2 linked regions of the Homo sapiens genome follow. The protein of the gene in region 1 purifies or fractionates together with the protein of each later gene. This does not show direct contact. Each region holds a gene or a part of one and is shown on either strand. Other genes may lie near its edges.

Evidence for each region. Proteins that work in one complex are often made in the same cells at the same time.
Region 2: the proteins of ALDH4A1 (region 1) and AHCY fractionate together in Homo sapiens (co-fractionation; one large-scale study listed by BioGRID). This does not show direct contact.

The regions. Positions count from the first base shown.
Region 1 is NC_000001.11:18,888,994-18,892,640, forward strand, and holds part of ALDH4A1 (delta-1-pyrroline-5-carboxylate dehydrogenase, mitochondrial isoform a precursor), read right to left. Parts: intron 1,899-3,647; exon of another isoform or gene 1,701-1,898; intron 1,113-1,700; coding exon 1,019-1,112; intron 462-1,018; coding exon 369-461; intron 1-368. UniProt on the Homo sapiens protein: Irreversible conversion of delta-1-pyrroline-5-carboxylate (P5C), derived either from proline or ornithine, to glutamate. This is a necessary step in the pathway interconnecting the urea and tricarboxylic acid cycles.
Region 2 is NC_000020.11:34,293,356-34,297,002, forward strand, and holds part of AHCY (adenosylhomocysteinase), read right to left. Parts: intron 2,231-3,647; coding exon 2,040-2,230; intron 802-2,039; coding exon 726-801; intron 1-725. UniProt on the Homo sapiens protein: Catalyzes the hydrolysis of S-adenosyl-L-homocysteine to form adenosine and homocysteine. Binds copper ions.

The DNA.
Region 1 (3,647 bases):
AACTCCAAGCATGGGGGCTTCTTAGGCCAATGCCATCTGAGGTGCTCGGGGCCCGGGGCCCAGCTTTTTGTCATTAGCTCCCAAACCCCCTTGGCAAGAAATCTATGAGGAATAACAGAAGATGCTGTGTGGCCCCCTCATGGCCTTTCTTGCCCAGACACAGGATGCCGCTATGGGCTGGATGCAGTGTGGGTGCCGTCCTTTGCTTTGGGAGTTTTACTGGTCCACAGAATTCAAAATCTGGGGTGGGGAGGGGCACTATAAAGGCCTTGAAGTCAGAGCCCACACATTATAAGCTTACGAGCTGTCAGAGAAAGAGGTCACATATTCAGGGGAGGGGCTGAGCTCTGCCCACCCGCTGGACATACCGACACTTGGTACTGCACGTCCGACGTCCACACCTCCTCATCCCCCACCACGCATGGGATGGCTTCCATCCGGCCCTTCAGGTCCTTCAAGGCCTGGGGAGAGGGACAAGAGTGGGTATGGTCACCGCCTTCCTCGCTTCCTCCCATCTAAAACCCTAACGCAGAGTCCACAGACGGAGGTGCCCAGGCAATACAGAAATGAGAAGGGGGCCAGGCCAGGTCGGTGGCCATCAGAGAACATGTGCTGCCCTCGGGGACAGCCGGACTCTGCTCCAGCCATTGTCACCCTGCAGGAAGGTGAGGTCTACCCATGACACAGAGATAAAAAAACTGCACCTGAAACTTATATGAAATCTCATGATTTTTAAAATGCTGGCAATTAACTGGAAAACATGTTTAACTATAAAACAACTAGGTTTATGACATCTGACCTGGCCTGAGAAGCCCCAGAGTAGCTCCAGGCTGCCACCTTGGTCCTCCCAGCTGTTCCCACACTCCAGACCCACAGCCCTCCCAGGCTTCCACCCAAGGCTGGGAGCAAGGGTAGAAGCGGGTGATGGCTGCAGGCACGGGGCGCTATCTCAGGGCTGCTGGGGATGGCCTCTGCTCCATGCCCTGCACCTCTCGGGTGCCTCCCACCCTCCCATTACCTTTTGCAGGGCATCTCGCTCAGGGCTGCCCTGCGTGAAGGCTAAGACGGGCTCGTTGGCCACCTTCAGGGAGGAGGTGTGCTTCCACCGCAGGCTGGAACACAAGGGCAGGGGACAGAGGCAGAGAGGTCAGCAGCGGCCCCACCACCAGACCCCAGCCCCTCTACCTCCGACAGGGGGTCCTAGGTGGGCACCCAGAGCCTGAAATCCAATGCAACTAGAAAGTGGGGGGTCAAAACCCCACCTTGGGCTGGGCATGGTGGCTCACACCTGTAATCCCAGCACTTTGGGAGACCAAGGCGGGCAAATCACTTGAGGTCAGGAGTTCGAGACCAGCCTGGCCAACACGGTGAAATCCCGTCTCTACTAAAAATATTTTAAACGTTAGCCAGGTGTGGTGGCATGTGTGCCTGTAGTCTGAGCTACTCAGGAGGCTGAGGCAAGAGAATTGCTTGAACCCAGGAGGCAGAGGTTGCAGTGAGCCGAGATCGTGCCACTGCACTCCAGCCTGGGTGAGAGAGCGAAAAACTCCATCTCAAAACAACAACAAAAACCCACCTTGGGGGTCCACAACCCAAGGTTCAAGTCCCAGTCCCACGGTTGTGTGTCCTTGAGCCTGTGAGTTGCCTCCTGTGAACGTGGTTCTACGTCTATCAAGTAAGAATAATCGCACCGAACTCACGCGGTTGTTTGAAGTTTAAACACACAGATGCAAAACCACGTTGAAGTATTTTCCACATGCAAAGCGTTACTCTCCCTTTCTTCTCCCACAAGGCAGGCTTTATCCCAAAAAGACCCAAACTCCTCTCTCTAAGCTGAAAGGGCAGCACATTCCAGAACACAGTCTCAGAATGTGAACCAGCTGAGATCCCCTTGGCACAAAGGGCTGAGAGCTCTGGCTGGGCAGGAATGTCCAAGATGTGGACCATGAACTTGGAGAGCTGCCCTGAGCTCAGCTCACAGCCCCGGGAGGGCTGGCCCTGGGGGTGAGGTGCCTGATTCCAGGACACTGAGTCTCAAGAACTCCTTGCTCAAATCCTCTGACCTCTTTCCACCACCCCCTACCACATCTGAGGGTCACAAGGTGGGAGGTCAGGTGGCTCAAAGCTAGGACGCTGGGGTCAGTCATTCCAGAGCTGGAGCCTCAGCCCTGCCACCTCCCAGCTGTGGGGCTTCCCCTTCAGGCCTGTTTCCCCCTCTGTAAATGAGAAGAATGATGATGACAAAGTCAACTAATGCCCAAAGGGCACTTGAAATTGACAAACTTCCCATCTACCGTGGCATAGGACGGGCCTCACCAGCCACCTCTCTACAGAAATAAGGTCATTTTGGTCCTAAAAGGAAAATGACTAGTTCAAGATCAAGAGTAGGGGAAACCTGCACTTGAGTCCAGAAGGCCCAGATACCATCTCTCTCTGGTGTCAATGGCCCCAGACAACCCGAACAGCTGGAAGTGCACAGGTGGGGTTCACTGGTCGGCGCAATGAGGGAAAACACACAGCGTAGGGAACCACAGGGCATCTCAGTAAGATGCTGTTAGGAAACCCATGGGGTTTGGCAGGGTGACTTGGGGAGGGTTTAAGGAAGCCACGGTTAGCTCTGGATTGGCTGCCATCAGAAAGTGGGGGTGAGGCTGACTGGGAAAAAAGGAACATTTACCAAGATGTGCAGAGCTTTGTGGGTGGCACAGAGACCTTGTTTTTGTCCGTGCTTAGACAAAAATCATGAAGAGAAGGCCCGGCATGGTGGCTCACACCTGTAATCACAGGACTTTGGGAGGCCAAGGTGGGCGGATCACTTGAGGTCAGGAGTGTGAGACCAGCCTGGCCAATATGGTAAAACCCCGTCTCTACTAAAAATACAAAAATTAGCTGGGCGTAGTGGCCCACTCCTGTACTCCCAGCTACTTGGGAGGCTGAGGCAGAAGAATCACATGAACCCGGGAGGCAGAGGTTGCAGTGAGCTGAGATCACGCCACTGCACTCCAGCCTGGATGACAGAGCAAGATTCCATCTCAAGGAAAAAAAAAAAAATCAGGAAGAGGGCTTATTGTGTCTCATCTGATCATGGTCTCAGAGGGACGTGGCCTGAGGCTAGTGTTCTGCGGGATTGTTTTTGCCCTATGGGAGACAGACTGGCCCGGCTATGAGTGTCGGGGGCCAGAAGGAGTCTGGGGCTCAAAGACCCAGCCTGGGAAGCCTGAAGGAAGGACACAAAACCAAAGGAGTGTGGCCAGGCCCTGTGTTCATTCCACTTGACTTGAGGTTGACTGAGGACCTGCTGGGTCTCTGGTGCCGTCTCAGACCCTGGAGATAAAGCAGTGACAGAGACAGCGAGGCCCCTGGCTGCACACAGGTGACCTTCAGTGTGAGGCCTGGTCAGGAAATAAGCAAGGTAACCGCAGATGGTGAGCATGGCAAACAAGGGGGAGAATAGGGCTGCTTCAGCCAGGGTGGTCAGGGAAGGCCTCTCTGAGGAGGTGACCCTGAGAGGGACTTAAAGGAGGCTTGAGAGGAGCTGGGAAGAGCATCCCAGGTAGAAGGAGGCGGGGGGGGGCTGAGAGGGGCCTGCGTGGTAGAGGGAGAGGGAGAGGCAGGGGCAGGGCACCCAAGATCCTGACAGGTAAAGT
Region 2 (3,647 bases), on another chromosome or scaffold:
GCTGCTTCTACCCACAACTGGAGCAGACAATAGTCTTAAGAATTGCAGTGAGCCAAGATCGCACCACTGCACTCCAGTATGGGCAACGGGGCAAGACTCTGTCTCAAAAAGAAAAAAAAAAAAGAAGAAAGCCACGGTGCCAAGGCTGAGGAATGGGGATCATGCCCATTCAGCCCTGGTCAGTCTGTGAAGGAGTGCTGTGCCACCCCCTCCTGTCCACCTGTGGTTGGTTAGAAGCAATCTTGAATGTCCTAATCACTGGGTCAGATCTAACCACTCCCCTCCCCAAGTCCAAGCAGACATGTGCCCAGCCTGTGAAAACTCCATTCTCGTTAGACTTGGTCCTTCCTCAGTCCTTTAGACCGCCATACCCTAGGCAGTGAACCTCTTTTTCTGCCCCGTAGCCCTCCCCAGTTCTTTGGAAAGAGATCCACATCCTTCCTTTAATGAACTTCCCCTCCGCTTCATCATGTAGTTCCCAATCATAAGATCTTGCTCTTCCTGGTTACACGGCTTGACCTGGGTCAATAAACAACTTCCACAGGATTTTAGATGATGATGGGACAAAGCAGCTCTTTCCTGTGGGGTCGCTGGGCTAGGATTTTGTGGCGGTGACTCCTCTCCCTTTCTGATATGTAAGGAAGTCTGTTGCTCTAGCAGTCAGTGAAGCAAAGAGGGCAGAATCCCTTCACAAATTCCACGTCTCAGAAGCAAGCAGGACTTACCCGGAATGCCAGCCTTGGCAATGGCAGCCGCCGCATGGTCCTGGGTGGAGAAGATGTTGCAGCTGGACCACTGCACCTAGAAGAGCCATCAAAACAAGGCTGTTGGTCACTGATGGCTCAAAAGCACCAGGGACGCTGGGCGAGGAAAAGGGAGAGCTTCGGGTAGTGGGGAGAGGCTTGGGATCTAGGCACAGCAAGCTCTAGGATCACAGGCTGGGGATGCTGGGTGGGCAGATGGGAGCCAGAGCAGGGGCGAGATCCAACTCAGGTTTTAAAACCTCACTCCAGTGCTGTGTGGAAGGGAAAGGGTGGAAGCAAGGGGACAACTGCAGAGACTGTTGGAGAAGACTCCAGACAAGAAATATGACAGTAGCAGTGGAGATGATGAGAAGTTGTCACATCCTGGGTCTACTCTGAAGGCTGCACTGACAGGATTTGCAGAGGGATGAGTTGTTGGAGTAAAGGGAGTTGGGAGTGGGGAGGAAAGGGAGGGGAGGAGATGACTCCCAGATTCGTGAATTGAGAGAACCCAGAAGGCTGGAACAGAGGTTCCATTTACTCAGGTGGGGAAGGCTTTGGGAAGAAGAGGGGGCAGAAAATCCTGAGTCTGTTTGAACGCGTTCTGCCTGAGATGAGTACTAGACCTCCAGGGAGCGTCAACGCCCCCGCTCCTGGATATGCCAGTCTTGAGTTCCAGGAGAAGTCCAGGCTAGTACAAAAATGTGACAGTCATCACCAGATAGTGTCTAAAGCTATAAAATCAGACCGCCAAGAGTGAATGCTGAAAAGAAAGAAGAGGTCCAAGGACTCAGCCCTGAGCCCCTCTGTGGATTTTGGCTCCATTGCCCTACCCTGCTTTGGGAAACCAGCTTGCTTCTTGACTCTCTGAGACCTTAGGAGAGCTGTTAATCATTGGCACACATGACCCAGGCTGAACCAATCAGAGCTGCCATCATCCAGCAGCCATGATGGGTCCAGGGTAGGCCTGTGACCCCCGAAGGGCCAAGGCAAGCTGGCCCTTAAGAGACTAAGTAGGACATGGGTGTTGAATTTTTCCTGCCAGAGCATCCATCAGGAGGATGCCTTGAGGGTAGCCAACAGTGACCTTCCCAGCCAGGGAGAAAATCTGCAGAACACTCACCACAAGGGGTGGCAGCACTGGGAAACGGAGGAAACCGAGTGAGAGGGAGGAACCCCTCCAGGCCCGCGGTCAGCTCCACACCTGGAAGGTCCCCACCCTGGCACAGTCGTCTTCTTCCCTGGCTGAACCCAGGGAGGGCAAGGACTCTGGGGTGATACAGCTGTGGGCCTCACCTCAGCACCCAGGGTGACGAGGGTCTCAATGAGGACGGCCGTCTCCACGGTCATGTGCAGGCAGCCAGCGATGCGGGCGCCCTTCAGTGGCTTGGAGGCCGAGTACCGCTCCCGCATACGCATCAGGCCCGGCATCTCGTTCTCAGCAATGTCCAGGGCCTTGCGTCCCCAGGCAGCCAGGCCGATGTCGGCTACGGGAGGAAACAGGTGGGAGTTCCGTGAGTCCCCTCATCCCACCAACCAAGAGGGGCGGTCACTGCATGGACCCCGATCCACGTGTGGACTCAACACACTAGGGCTTAGCACTCTGTCACCGCATTCTCTCACTCATGCAACAAGTATTTATGAAGCCAGAGTACTCAAGAAAGACACGGTCCCTGCCTACCTGCACCTTTCTGACTTGTGGGAGAACACATTTAATCACACAGGGACACAAAAATTACAACATAAAGAAGCGTCCCTTTGAAAAATAGCTCACATGATACTTCCCACTACCCTGCCTTTCTGCTGACACCTACCAACCTCCAGGCCACTCCTCACTCCCTAAAGACTCCCTAAAGATGTTAGCTGCTGGTTCTCCATCTTCCTCTCTCAGTCATCACTCTCGGTGATTCAACACTTATAAATACTATCTAACATTTTGGATTTGACAGTTCCTTGATCTCCTTTTAGATGTAAAAATGCTTCCCCACTCCTGATGTTTCTTTCCACCTGGAGGAACTCATCCGTATAACGAATGCTCTTGGCCTCTCTGCCCCAGGGGAGGTGGGGTGAGCTTGTCTGACCAGTAAAACTGAGAGGAAAAAATGGTGTGCTCAGCTTAGCTCTCCCTTCTTTTTGCAAGCAAGCACTCACCTGCCCACTTGCAGGAAGCTGGTGTTCTCTGCTTTTCCAGAGACCAACCTACCCTGGCCCACCTTGCCTGCAACTGATTGGGTAACTGCTGAATCTGGGGGTTCAATAAGCAGGATCATTTGGATTTCATATTAATCTATATCCTCTGGCTTTGAGGTTATTAGTAATAAAAGGTAATATTTCAGGTGTTGCCACCTAAAATACTAATCTACATCCTCTGGCTTCATGGTTACTAGTAACAAAAAGTATTTCAGGTGCTATCTGCCACCTAAAATGTCTCGAATTTGTTCAAATTCTCAGGCAGGAAAGAAGGATATTATTATGAGCTAACTCACTATCTCAATACTCTCCCCTACCACACTGGTCCACTTCCAAGGTCATACCCTAGGTCAGTCCCTAGGTCAAAGTTTGCAGACTTCCCCGGTAAGGGATGTTCCTCTGGCATGCTTGTAAATCTCCCCTGGAAAATATGATTCAGCAGGTCTAAGACTCCTGGTGATTTTTATCTTTAGGGAAGCTGAGATCCTGCCAAACACCCAAAGAGGTAGGCGGTGGGAGGCAAAGGACTCTGTAGAGAATTTAATAATCTAAGAATTTAATAATCAATAAAATTGTCTGTCAGTCAGCTTCCTACAGTGCATTTTAACAATTTCAGAGATGAAACACGCCTCCCGCATGAGAGACCACTCCGGCTGTGCCTCAACTCAAGCCACCCACCCCAGCCCTCCTACCCTAGTAGGCCATCACCAGTGA